2 linked regions of the Homo sapiens genome follow. The protein of the gene in region 1 interacts with the protein of each later gene in a biochemical or structural test. Each region holds a gene or a part of one and is shown on either strand. Other genes may lie near its edges.

Region 1 (7,093 bases):
TAATTTCACTCTGCTCCTTCAGTGGTGTCTGTCCCACGGCCTGCTGCATGCCCGGGGAACGTGTCTGCCTCCAGAACCACTGCCTCAGGTGGGGTGCTGAGACCCAAGAAAGAGGAAAGCGTGAGGTGCGGGCTGCAGCACAGGTATGTGGAAGCTTCAGGAAGAGCCTGGGGTTGCTGACCCCCATGCCTCCTGGCAGCAGGGAGGAAAGGCTGAACCACCTGGCACCTATGCTCACATACACAGAACATGCAGAACACACACATACATACAGATGCAAACACAGACTGCCTCAAGATTCAACAGTCTGAAAATCCAGTTTCTGGTCACCACCCTCAGCAGTCCTTTCTTCTTGCCTCTGTGCTATTCTCTTGCCGAGGAGGCAGACCAGGGAGTGGCAGGGGGGACACTCGCAGCACACACACAGGCCCCCATCCCAAGGAGGAAAGGCTTAGGTGGCAGCAGAGAGCCTGGAAGCCCTGCATTCTGCCCCTCCGATGGGAGATGCCCACCCACCTTCCCTTATCTGCAGAGCCTCGTTCCAGTGGCCATTGCCTCCTGCACCTCCTAGCTCAGATCCTTGCTGGGGTCCATGCCTGCCTCCCCAGCTTGACTGCTCCTGTGGACAGTATCAATGGATACCTGCTCACCATCCCTTGCTAACTTCTCTTATTCATGGTCAGAAAAGAGTTTGATATGATTCAACTCTTTTGAAAAGAATATGATTTTCCCTTGATTTCAATATTCAAGGTAATTCGTGGGCTTCACATAACAGGAAGAATAGTGCTGGCTACCTCTTACTGCACATAAATATATACCAGCCCCTGAACTCAACAGCAGAGCCAGAATTTAAGCCAGGGCTGTCTGGTGTTTCTACAGCCTGGACTCTGAAGCACAGAACTATAACCTTCCCCAAACTCTATTGCTGAGGAAATTGCCTTTTAGAACAGGGGCCTGGTATGTTTTTCCATAAACCACGAATTATTTTCAGGCCAAACAAACCTCATGAAGACATATATGTTTCACAAGATACTGTCAAGATGAAGGTGGCCCAGGGTTGAAGGCAGGCATTGGTGCCTGCAGTTGAACCAAGTCCAGTGGGGTGGGCCTACCAGAGCTTTCCAGGCTGTTCTACCTGAAGGAAGTTTTGGCATGTTCTCAGCACCTGCCTGAACTCAGAGTGACACCCCAAAACACATCCACATGAAGAACTGAGGAAGGGGCAAGGCTCCGGGATTCTCAGGGTGGAAAGAGCCCTGGATGGCACCTGATCATGGGAGGGTTCTCCCTAAAGCCCCAGGGAAGGAGCACTCCCTTCTCCACGCAGCAAGCTCATCCTTGCATAGACGGGAGATCCCCTGCCTCTGCCCAGACCGCTTCCCAACTCTCTCTCTCTGAACTTTCTCTTCTCTTCTTCAACAGGCCCTCACCACTGTGGCCGCCTGCTCTTTCTTCTGAAAGTGCTCCTGTCAACAGTGGTACAGTGTTCTGGGGGTCGCCAACCCAGTGTTCAGTGTTCAGTCCTCTTTGGGCAGTCGGTAGTGGTCTGCATTCTTTCCTTCAGTATTCTAGCCTGAGTTTGAGTTTTTTAGCTGTGTCTCAGACCCACCCACTGGGGGGCCTGATCACTGATGTCACAAGGAACTTGTGAGGAGGTTCCCTAAATCCAAGGAGACCTGAGCCCTGTATAGGTGACTTCAAGTCAAGCACCTCCCTGTGCCTGGCACTGTGCAGACGCTGGAAAAAAAGTAGACGTGGGCTTCCCCTGGCATCGAATCCTGGGATGGGGGTGACAGATCCTGGGCACACCCACCTGACACCTTGTGGGCTGACGACAGGCTGTAGTCCTGGTACTGGGTGGCGTAGCACTGTGGGGGGAACCTGCTCTTGCTGTTCTCCCCGGGACTGATGGCAGATGGAGGCTGTGGCAGCGGCAGATGTCTCAGGGGATGGCCCAGGCCCCTCATGGGGTTTTGGGTGAACTTATCTGAAAGACCAAAGTCAGAGAGTGACGGTAGCATTGGCCTGAGGGAGGGGAGAGGCCAGGAAGCCCTAGCATCCCTTTCCTTTATAAAAGGTGCTCAGAGTCACCAGAACTACAGCCAACCTTCAGGACCCTCTGATGGCATCATCTAAGTCAGAGTGGAGATGGAAAAGTTGGGTGTGTGGGACTGCGGGAGAGACAGAGGACATCGCCCCATTCTAACAAGGCTCAGAGAGGCAGGTACGGCCTGTGGTGAATGGAAGAACCAGGATGGGCTCCCGAGCCCCAGTCCTTCCACCAGAACCCCCAGGAGGCCCAGGCCTGTGGCCGCTGCTCACCATTGGGTACATTTGCGCTCAGTGGCTTGTCCGGCATCAAAGGGCAGCTCCCACCCCTGAGGTTCTTCATCCGTTTCCACATCAAATGTGAGGTGCTGCCACCAGGTGGGTCCCCCTGGGAGTAAGAAGGGCAGATGGAAAGGGGAAATGGCCAGAGAACCAGGTCCCCAGACTGGGTGGGTTGGGTGGGCCTGGAACAGGGCTGGCACTTGCTGGCTTGGAAGGGCCACATCCCCACCCCTCTCAGCAGCCCTGGGTTCCCTAAGGGCTATGCTGGCTTGGAAGGGCCACATCCCCACCCCTCTCAGCAGCCCTGGGTTCCCTAAGGGCTATGGAGAGGCCCCTGTGGCCAGTGGGGATGACTCACCCCGCTCAGGTCCTGGAAGGCTTGCTCTTCATACTCCAGCTGTCGCTTCAGCTTCAGCTTGTTGGAGAGGGCTACCATGGCCGGACTCAGCACGTCTGGGCCTCGAGCCCCAAAACCCTTTGCAGACCTGCCAAGCCCGAGAGAGCAGGCTATGAGGGAGTCTGGAGCCACATGCCACTCAGTGCCTTCTCATCTTAGGGGCCCTTCCAGTCCCAATGCTGATGCCTGTGATGACTCAAAGACCCAAAAGGCAGAGTCTCAGAGGCAGGCTGTGCACCTGCAGGCCGAGCTCGAGCTCTGTCTCCTTCCTCAGCTATAAGATGCTGAAGGGCTCAAGCCTCCTGGTCTGGGGGATGGCTGCCTGGCTGGGCAATGTTAGTCCTTAGGAGGGTTTCTTCTGCCCATGTCTCTCCTCTGCCTTTTGCTCCCACTGAAAACTAGTTTGGCTGCTCTATAAAGGGCAAGTACCAGCGGCCCCTGGGAGTGGCAGGTCATGTACCAACCCCTGTGCCTTAGCCCAGTGAGCTCGCAGCTGGTGAAATGAGCATGCTGGGGAGATGGGAAGGCATTTCTGGAGCCTAGGCACAGCTGGGAGAGGCTGCAGTGGCGAGGACCCGGGGGCAGCCAAAAGGCAAGGGGAGGCAGGGGTATCTTTTTGCTGTTTTCAACCAGGGAAAATCATCACTCAATTTTCTGTGTGGCTCAGATGATGAACCGAGATACGAAAGGCACTCTGGTGGTGGTCCGAAGGGAGACACTGAGGTACAGGGCTCTCAACAAGCCACTTCTTTGCCTGCCCTCAGTGGCAGCCCAGATAAAAACCCATCCTACACTAGGCCTCACATGGCTTGAGGTGATTCCCCAAAGTCTGAGCTCAGAGAAGGGCTAAATGGGGTATCAGATGGCTGGGGAGAGGGGCAGGGGCCTCCCTGGGGGTCCAGCTATCTTACTAGTGGGTGCCTCTCGGTTCGGCCCTGCTGGTACAGCTGAGTATCTGCCACTTACCTTGTCTTGAAGGTGGAGACATGGGGTGGAGAGACAGGGGGCCCCAACGGCGCTGCTCCCAAGAACTCTGTGCGCTGATCCCCGACGGCCCACTTTGTGGGCCCAAAATGTAATGGTGGATCTGGGGGCCACTGGGTATTGGATCTGCCCCCCATGGAAGAGAGAGGGGTGCTGGCCTGGCCACAGCACGGTGGCAGGGATGCTTTGCTTCCGGCATCAAAGAAGATGGAGGACATGGGCCGGTGCTCGGGCTCTGTCTTCTTGCTCTCCAGCTGCTGCTGAAACTTGTCCAGGAGGAAGGGACTGTGCGGGGCTACAGGGGCCAGTGGCTGGAAGATGTTTGTCATGGCACTGAAGCAGTGCTGGGGGGTGGACTGTGGGTTCTCCGCCAAGAGCCGCTCCTCGGGGCAGATGGGGCTTAGCTGGAAGTCTTCCCCGTCCATGGGGATATAGGGTGCCAGTGTCTCCAAGTCCAGCTCATTGAAATCCGTCTGAGGGGAGACAGCACCGGCAAAGAGGCAAGGGGGTTGGTACGACCTCACAAACACTATTCCAACTCAGCTCCTGCAGAGCCATTCATCTCAAGCACTGTTTCACAGTGCTGCTCAAACGCCTCCACTGGCTCCCGAGGGCCTATCAGGAAAACCTCAGACTTGGCTGTGTCATGTACACGACCTTGTATCATGTACCAGCCTTCCCCCATGTTTATCCCCTCTTCACCCTGCACATTGAGAAATGTTCTCCTCTCCCCATCCCACCTGTCCGGAGCCCGCCTTCTCTCTTGAAGCCGAGGCAGCCCCTCTTCCACAGAGTCAGCCCTGCCTACTCCAGCCTGTGGTGGTTATCCTTGTCCTACAATGCTTAGGCCTGTGGTGCACACTGTGGCTTTTTTTTGTCCTCTTCTCCCTCCTGTAAGCTGGCACGGGCCTAAGCAAGCAGTAAGTGCCCAGGTCCATCTGTGGACTCTCGCAGAGTAACAGCCTAACAGCCAGACCCCAGGGACAGAGACTTTGGTTCCAATCAGCAGATACTCAGATCATCCCTTAGGGTGGCAGTATCATGACGGACGCATGATACAAGCAGGGGAATACAAGCAGATGCGGAAAACAGTTTCTAACTTCAGAGACTGACACCCTCAGTGGGTGTCAGCTGACTAATGACTGCAATACTAAGCAATCTTTAAGGAGCAGAAGCAGATAGCTGTGATTAAGTGCCACATGATATATACTACAGGAGTGCTGAGGAGGGAGGGTGATAGAAAAGCTAAAATTGGGCATGTTTTGCAGAGTAGCTGGGATTTGTGCCAAGTAGGATCAAGAAACAAACTAAGTGGCAAGGCAGAAATCTGGTTGAACTCAAGACTAAGACAAATGGGGGATTAATGGTTTTCCCTGGGGTTTTGTAAAACACGTACCCCTCCCTCTACCTTATCCTTGTTTACATAGTTTTTGCAAGAACATTGGCCTTATGTAATAAATGTGTTCCTGAAAAGTTTTATGTAAATGAAAAATTGTCAAACAGATGTTATTTATTTTAAAGTGCATTTCATATAAAAATGATTATTTTTTTAAAATCACAAGATGAATGTGTTTATAAAGGGATTAATTGTCCCCTATGTTTATACATGTTTTATACATCTGGCTATGCTTGTTAAATGTAGGGCCTGTTTAAAGAAAGGTGCAGTGGTATCATTTCGGTTTTCATGTGTGCTAAGAAAGCTATCTAAGTAGGAGACACATATGCTGGAAGAGCTGGATTTGACAGTGGGAGGAGGGGGTGACCACAGGCTCCATTACCCTGTACCCCTACCTCTTTAGGGGACCTGGGCCTTGGCCAAACGTCTCCACTGCTCTTTACAACAAAGGGATGAGGCTACAAGAATGGATGTGAGCCTTTGCTGTCCACCAGACAGCAGGCACACACCCTAGCCTGATCTCCACAGCCATCTACCTGGGTACTGCATTGGTCCTTGGCCTCTGTGTCCATGGCGAAGAGCTTCTCAATCACTTCAATCTTCAGGTCGTTATCCAAAGATGTGTAATAGTCTTCAGGGCTATTGGGCTAGGGGCCAGGAAGGAGGGGGACAGAGTCAAAGATATGGCACTGGTCTCCCCAGAAGTCCAGCATGGAAGAAGAAATACCTTCCTGGACCCAAAGGTTCAATTCCATTCCACCACACAACTATTTGTAGAGGGGCTGCTAATTAACAAGCTGTATGAATTAGGTCAATTCATCAACCTCTCTAAATTCCAGTCTCCTCATCATAAAATGAGGCTACTGTCGCTTCACAGGTTGTCCTGTCTTGAGGACCAAACAGGATACAGGCTGTGGCCAGCAGGGCTGTGCAAACTGTGCAGCTCTGTGCCACATACGGGATGTTACTGCCCTGTATGGGGACTGAGCTGGGGGCTCAAAGCCCTTCAAGGAGCTTATTTCAATGGAGTTGGGGGATGAACACTAAAAGGAAGAAAACAGCTCTGATACCTGGTAGGTAAGTGTCACGGCCACTCTAGGGGGCTCTGTGATAACCTGAGAAGGACAGTACCTGTCCCAAATGTCCCTTCAGCCATCTGGCAGCAGTCATACATACGGAGCCCTCTCTGTGTCCTCGCCATAAGAGGGCTGCTCACCGTGGAGCAGCTGCTGCTGCTGCTGGTGGCACTGGGGGTGGTGCTGCCCGGGGCAGCTGCCTGGGGCACGGTGAAGGCAGGCAGGCTCCCAGCCTCGCTCTGGGTGCTGTGGCTCCTCAACTCCGTGGCCCATGGCTGGCTCGGGGGCAGGATGGCCTTGCCATAGGCTGAGGACTCCTCGAAGTTCTGATTCCCTGTGGAGACAAGGGCCTGGGAGGTGAACACCCACAACCATCGGGCTCACCCCAAGGCAGAGGAGGCCCAAAAACCGCAGAGAAGGCCCTAAGAGGGTCTGGAAGGCATGCCTGGGGCTAGGCCCCCCCAACACCCTGGGGCTCAGCTGGAACACATGGGTCTTTGACTCTGGCTATGAGTCAACGTAGAGACTCCCTTTAAACGGAACAGTCTCCTGGGACATTTAATTTTCAGAGACTAAATATATTAGGAGCCACTCTTCCCTGAGGAACAGATCCGGAAGGGTAGACAAGGAAGGTATGAGAGGGAGAGGAGAATTGGGCTATTGAGCTATTTGCCTCAGTACTGCCACAAAACAAGCCGCGAGACCTACTGGCCAAGGGCCCGCTGCGTTTCAGATTCTCTTTAGCTGCAATCCTCACGTGGCCGCTGTAGAACCCATCTAAAAGGGGCTGACACAGTCCAGGGTGAGCACCACTCTTCCGGCAGCCACAGCAAGGCCAGGAGAGGGTGGCAGCGGGTTGCGAACTGGGGAGCATGGGGCTTCAAGGGTGTTTCCAGGATTGGAGCAGCC
Region 2 (7,165 bases), on another chromosome or scaffold:
ACATGCCCTAGTCCAGTGCTGTCCATTAGAGCTTTCTTTAATAATGGAAGTAGCCTGTATCTGCTGGTCAATAAGGTAACCAATAGTTACCAGGGGCTGTTGAGCACTTGAAATATGGATATTTTGACTGAACTGAATTTTTAATTTTACAACTAGCTGTGGTTACTAGTTACTGTATTTAGCAGCCATACTCAACAATCCTATAGGTCTATCTTAATTACTTTTATAGGAATGAAGAGTATTATAATTATTTCTCAATTATATATATTTGGTTTTAATTTCTACAGAGGAAGAGGACAACAAAGTTTTGTGAACTATTATTCATATAAGTTTGTAGTTGTTTAAGGAAAAGACTTCACAGAGAACAGGGCAGAGAGTAACACAATATCTGATTTCCAAAAAATTCAATCAAACTTTGATATGGATTTGGTCAAATCATTGTTTAATGGCCTCCTTAACATTATTATTAAACTGATTTATATAATTTGCTTTTTACTAATCAAATACATTGTTTTAAATCTTAATTATTTTTTATTATAAAAGTAATACACATTCAGTGTAACAAGTTCAAATAATCTCTCAGGTGGATAAAATACGGACATCCACCACACTGTACCTACCAAGATGCCCATACCCCAAAGATGATTGCTGTTAAACATTTAGAGTGCCTTTCCTGACTTTTTTGTCTAAGCACCTTTAAAAACCAATACTTTTGGTTTTCAGTGATAGCTCTGAATCCCCTTTAGGCATAGAGTGTGGGAAATTATATTTCTGCAGCAAACTCAGGCTCTGCAACATCAAGTGTGGATTCACTGGAAATTATTTGAAGTAACACTTAGAGATCATAGTAGCCAAAAAATGTTGGGAAATTAAAAAGGGGTTTTTAAAAATTAATTATCGTTATTATTATTTTTTTCAAAGAGACAGGGTCTTCACTCCATCACCCAGGATGGAGTTCAGTGGCGGAATTACAGCTCACTGAAGCCTCAAACTCCTGGGTGCAACCAATCCTCCTGCCTCAGCCTCCCAAGTAGCTTGGACTACAGGCATGCACCAACTGTGCCAGGCTAATTTTTTAATATTTTGTAGGGATAGGGTCTTGCTATGTTGCCCAGGCTGATCTCAAACTCCTGACCTCAAGCAATCCACGCACCTCAGCCTCCCATAGTGCTGGGATTACAGGAGTGAGCTCCCACACCCAGCTGAAAAAGGTTTTTGTGGAGGGAGTATGATCAGGAGAAAAATCATGGAATGTGCTCGAAAGAGATCTAAAGGGCCATGGAAGTCAAAAGGTTGAACTCCATAGAACAAAACATGAAGTATGGAAAGATTCTTTAAAAAACACTTGACTTTGGAACAAAATCCAAATTGTTCCCATGATTTCATTCTTTGACATTATGTTCATTTTGGTTATCTTAGTCTTTTCTCAGAATTCCTCTTTAACAGAGAATTATCTAAAAGCCCCTGGCTAAGTTAATGCTTATGACTATGGTCACAAATGGATGGCTTGGATTTTATTTGTTTTGCAGTGTTTGTAAATTTTTTTATGTATACTGTTGTTGTCAACTAACATAATCCGTATGTATATGGGTTATATATATATATATATATATTCCCCAAATTTAAAAACCAGTTTGGAGATTTTTCCCACACACAGAAAATCAGAAAATTGGCAATACTCTGCCCCATTACCACATGGCAACAATGTAGACAGGCCATGAGTTCTCCACATGGCCCTAATCCCCACCACTCTTAAACAAATCTAATCAGTTTTATGTATATTATATATGTATATTGCTGTGCTTCTCCTTCCTGCCTGACCCTGCAAGACCCCTGTCTCAGTCTCTCTCAACATGTCTGAAGGACTCGAGGGCAGGTGTCAAAGGTGAAGGCCCTCATCTGGATTTAATGTCCTGGACCTTGAAACAGCAGCTAGTGTTTTGAGCTCTAAGCTAACACTTTGGACTTTCTTTTTTTTTTCGAGATGGAGTCTTGCTCTGTCGCCCAGGCTGGAGTGCAGTGGCACCATCTCGGCTCACTGCAAGCTCCACCTCTCGGGTTCACGCCATTCTCCTGCCTCAGCCTCCTGAGTAGCTGGGACTACAGGCGCCCTCCACCACGCCTGGCTAATTTTTTGTATTTTTAGCAGAGATGGGGTTTCACCGTGTTAGCCAGGATGGTCTCGATCTCCTGACCTCGTGATCCGTCCGCCTTGGCCTCCCAAAGTGCTGGGATTACAGGCATGAACCACCGCGCCTGGCCACATTTTGGACTTTCAGTCATGTTTTCTTTCCCCAATGAAATAGAAAAGTTTTATTTCAAAGAGGAAAAGGGTGCAACAGCTGCAACATACATAAAACCTATTTAGTTTTACTTGGGAGTGGGAATCAGGAAACCTGGGTTCTGTTTTTGACTTAGTTTGGATAAAGAAGGGTAGTTAAGCTGTCCTTATGTCTCTTACCAAATGGAGAAAATACTGCTGTAGTTCACAGCAATTTGGGGAGTTTTAGATTCTATGGAAAATGGAAATCCTATTTGTAACTTAGATTTTTTCTTTGGAGAAGGAGTCTCGCTCTGTTGCCCAGGCTGGAGTGCAGTGGCACGATCTCGGCTCACTGCAACCTCCACCTTCCAGGTTCAAGCGATTCACTGACTCAGCCTCCTCAGTAGCTGGGATTACAGGCACGCGCCACCATGCCCAGCTAATGTTTGTATTTTTAGTAGAGACCAGGTTTTGCCATTTTGGCCAGGCTGGTCTCAAACTCCTGACCTCAAGTGATCTGCCCACCTTGGCCTCCCAAAGTGCTGGGATTACAGGCGTGAGCTACCGCTCCCGGTCTAATTTTTAAATTTTTGTTTTGTAGAGATGAGGGTCTCCCTTTGTTGCTCAAGCTGGTCTCTGTCTCTTGGGATCAAGGGATCCTCCTGCCTCAGCCTCCCAAAGTGCTGGGATTACAGGCCTGGGCCACTGCAACCTGGCCTTCATCACAAATTCATTGAACACACTTTCTTTATTTTATCCTTTTTTATTTTTAAAAATTTTTATTTCAGTAGTTTTGGAGGAACAGGTTGCATGGAAAAGTTCTTTAGTGGTCATTTCTGAGATTTTGGTGCACCCATCACCCGAGCAGTGTACACTGTACCATGTGGCACACACTTTCACTTAAAGCATTTACTAGACCTCGCTAGCCAGATTTCCCATCCCTGAGACACCTGGAATGTTCCTGAGGACTTAGTGACTACTGCCTAAAGCTCCACCCAAGTCAATTTTATGTTTACAGGCAACCGGAGCATCCAATCACCTTTCTCTAAGAGAGTACAAAGATCAGCTCGCGAGAAAGTTCAGACGTCTCATTTCGTTTCTATTACACGGGGCCTTCGCCCAACCAGACGGAGTCTTGCTCTGCTGCCCAGGCTGGAGTGCAGTAGCGCGATCTCGGCTCATTGCAACCTTCGCTCCCCGGGTTTAAGCAATTCTCCTGCCTCAGCCACTGGAGTAGCTAGGATTACAGGCGCACGCCACCACGCCAAGCTAATTTTTTGTATTCTTAATAGAGACGGGGGTTTCACCATGTTGGCCAGGCTGGTCTCGAACTCCTGACCTCATCATTTGCCCGCCTCGGCCTCCCAAAGCGCTGGGATTACAGGCGTGAGCCACCGTGCCCAGCCTCGCCGGGGCCTTTTAAGTGACGTTAAAAATTGTACATAAAATATGTTTTAGGATAATACTTGTTTTTCTTTGACCAAAGGCTTGGCTTCAGAGAATGTTTAGCCAGAAATAGAGGGGCGTTAAATCCCCTTTTTTCTAATTTCCAATCTGAGGAGGAAAATAACGTAGTAAAGGGACGCAAGAGCAACCTTGCTTCTTCCACAACAAGGCCCAGGCGCCGCCTTGCAACCCGGAAATGCAGGGTGCAGTGCGGGGGGTAAGGGACCGGCCAACTATGTTGACCCGACTCAGAGAAACCCCGCCCTTGCCGCCACCGCCCACCCATAACGTCCTCCTCGACCCTCCCTCGACCATCCCTCGCCCCGCGGCCCTCACCGAAAAGGGGAGGGCGGTGGAAGAGAGAGGAGTCAAGGGAGCGCACGCGAAGCCCCGCCCCTGCCGTGACGTCTGGAGACGCGACGCGTCGCCTCGCAATGCAAATCGGGAAAAGGGGGTGAGCTGGGCTGGCTTCCGTCCTGGTAGCCAAGGCTAATTCTCCCTCGAGTTCTTGGGAGATGGGCATTTGGCGAGAAGGCTGGCGTTAGTGAAGCGCGCCCGGCGTCACGGTGAGTGCGGGTCTTGGGCCCTAGCACCTGTTCTCTGGGAAGTCGTCCGCTGTGAACGATGAACGCCTTTCCTTCCACCAGCTGCTGGTTACCCCGGAGACAAGCTCTGTCCGCGGAGAGGAGTGGGACAACTCCTAAAGGTAGAATCAGCTTGTGGAGAGGAAAGGCCCAACCTTGAGTCTTTTACGCCATCTACCTAGGATTGCCAAGCGAGTTTCGTGTGTTTTTTTGGTTTTAAAAGGTGGCTTTGACCAATCTTCCGTTCTCTTGGACACTTATACCCGACTTTGACCTCTTTCCTCTTGCTTCCGGTTTTTTTTTTTTTCTGCAATCTGCCTACAATCCCAGGCCTTACTGTAGCTCCTAAAACTGTTTCCCAGTTTCTCTTCTTCCCCAGTCACACTTGATTTTAGTGAAGTTTGAGTTTAAAGACCCTATAAGCTTGTCAGAGTTAAAACTATGACTTCCTCAAATAGAAGATTTTTTTTTTTTCCCCTAAAAAGTGCCTTCCATCCTAGAGTTGTGGGACAAGTTAATTTCACCGCCACTCCACCTTGGAAATTATCAGAATCCTTACTAGCAGTGATGTGCATTATAAAGCTGCAGACCACCCTCCTGGGTTTATTTCTTGCCTCCAGTTCATTCTGTGACCTTGAACAAGTCACTTAATCACTAACAAAAAATTTACCTGACACGGAGGTGTTGCAGAGCCTAAGGAATTTAGTATTTGTTAAGAGACCTGAGGGTTTCAGATGAAAGGGATTTATATCTAAAGGATGTTACCTTTTCTGAATCTGCAAAGCATCGTTAGTTTTGTAAATATCTTGCTGCAGCCATTAAAAATGCCAAGTGGTATTTGTTAAGGAAGTATTCCTGTTTTAGGCTTGCTCTGCTGCGGCTTTGCTATGTAAGCAGATTTTTGCATTTCAGCCGATTCTGTTTAAGATTCGTTGGTGAATGTCATTCATGATGGATTTGGGTAGTTTCTCCTTACAGCATATCCCTGGACTATTAAGCATATCTGGAAGGTGATATCGGTTGTGTTATGTCTTTATCATGTTGATATGGCTGCTTTGAAATATGTATTCCTTTTCTTGTGACACATTGGATGCATCTTTAATATTAGTGAAGACCCTGTAGTAGTTTAAAAAAAAAATACACCTCTCATTAATGAAATTTTGCACATAGACATCTGTTTTTTTAAGAAAACAATGTATAAGAAAAACTAACAAAAATGTTTTAAAGGTGCCTTTTTTAGCATTTCGTTTTTTAATATATTTACTTGGACTTTAATCTTTATGGGCATTTGTTTATTAATGTGGACGTGGCTGGGCGCAGTGGCTCACATCTGTAATCCTAGCACTTTGGGAGGCGGAGGTGGGCGGATCACTGAGGTCAGGAGTTCGAGATCAGCCTGGCCAACATGGCGAAACCCGGTCTCTACTAAAAATACAAAATTAGCTGGGCGTGGTGGTGCACGCCTGTAGTCCCAGCTACTCTGGAGGCTGAGGCAGGAGAATCGCTTGAACCTGGAAAGCGAAGGTTGCAGTGAGCCGAGATTGCGTCATTGCACTCCAGCCTGGGTGACAAGAGCAAAACTCCGTCTCAAAAAATAAAAAATAAAAAGCGTGGACATAATGGAAAATAATCAAAATGACTTTTGGGTAAGACAGTTGGAAAATAAAGCCAGTACATTAAATTTTTTTCATAAGTCTAGCACTATATTACGAACTTTTCTCCATGAAAATGCACTCATATTTATGGAAGTGAAAGGAAAAAAATGTCTTCAGGTATGTGTTGCTAATAAAATTAGATATAATTAAGGAAACATTTAAAAAATACCTTGTTGTTGTCCCAGTTACCTATTGCTGCATAACAAATCACTCCAAAACATAGTGACTTAAAACTGTAATTTAGTATCTCTCCTGTTTCTCTGGCCTGCCTGGACTTAGCTAAGTGGTTTTCACCTAGAGTTTAATGCGTTTGTATTCAGATAAGCAGCTGAGTTTGGAGTCAACCGAGAGCTCAGCTGGTCTGGACATCCAAAATGGCTAATTCACGTGAAGGCGTTTGATGTTGGCTAGGAGTTCAGCTGGAAATGTCAACTGGAATGCCCACACATAGCCTCTTCACGTGACTTGAACAGTATGGCGGCTAGGTTCCGAGAATACATGTTTGAGGAGTCAGGAAGTAGAAGCTGCCAGTCTCCCAAAAAGCCTGAGCCCAGAAATTCGCACAACATTACTTCCAACATACTCTGTTGGTTAGAGCAAAGACCAGCGTACAACCCTCACCTTTGAAAGGAAAAATGTCAAAGAATTTGTGGCCGTGCTTTGCCTACTATAATTTTGATGACAAAGTTGTATTGGACTCTTGTTTGCATTTATATAGCAGATGAAGAATCAGGTACACTTCCAATTTCCAGTTTCTTTCTTTCTTCTTCTTCTTTTTTTTTTTTTGAGATGGAGTCTTGCTCTGTTGTCAGCCTGGAGTGCAGTGTACGATCTCAGCTCACTGCAACCTCTGCCTCCTGGGTTCACGCCATTCTCCTGCCTCAGCCTCCCGAGTAGCATGTCACCAAGCCCAGCTAATTTTTGTATTTTTAGTAGAGATGGGGTTTCACCATGTTGGCCAGGATGATCTTGATCTCTTGACCTGTGATCCACCTGCCTCAACCTCCGAAAGTGCTGGAATTACAGGCGTGAGCCACCGCGCCTGACCCATTTCCAATTTCTTTAACCGTAATACTTTATGTTGTAATGGCATATTACAGTTTTCAAAGCATGTTTTTGTATATTTTTTCACTTGATACCTATGGTCACCCTATAGAAGCAGACAAATAGTTCCTATTTCATTTTGCAGATGAAAGTAAACTGAAGAGTGGTGGTGG

Evidence for each region. Proteins that work in one complex are often made in the same cells at the same time.
Region 2: the proteins of EPAS1 (region 1) and USP8 form a complex in vitro, tested with the Homo sapiens proteins (one study listed by IntAct).

What each region holds. Positions count from the first base shown.
Region 1 is NC_000002.12:46,377,319-46,384,411, reverse strand, and holds part of EPAS1 (endothelial PAS domain-containing protein 1), read right to left. Parts: intron 6,519-7,093; coding exon 6,325-6,518; intron 5,756-6,324; coding exon 5,645-5,755; intron 4,186-5,644; coding exon 3,695-4,185; intron 2,817-3,694; coding exon 2,690-2,816; intron 2,438-2,689; coding exon 2,323-2,437; intron 1,988-2,322; coding exon 1,814-1,987; intron 1-1,813.
Region 2 is NC_000015.10:50,420,240-50,427,404, forward strand, and holds the start of USP8 (ubiquitin carboxyl-terminal hydrolase 8), read left to right. Parts: upstream 1-4,165; 5' UTR 4,166-4,275; exon of another isoform or gene 4,276-4,415; intron 4,416-7,165. UniProt on the Homo sapiens protein: Hydrolase that can remove conjugated ubiquitin from proteins and therefore plays an important regulatory role at the level of protein turnover by preventing degradation. Converts both 'Lys-48' an 'Lys-63'-linked ubiquitin chains.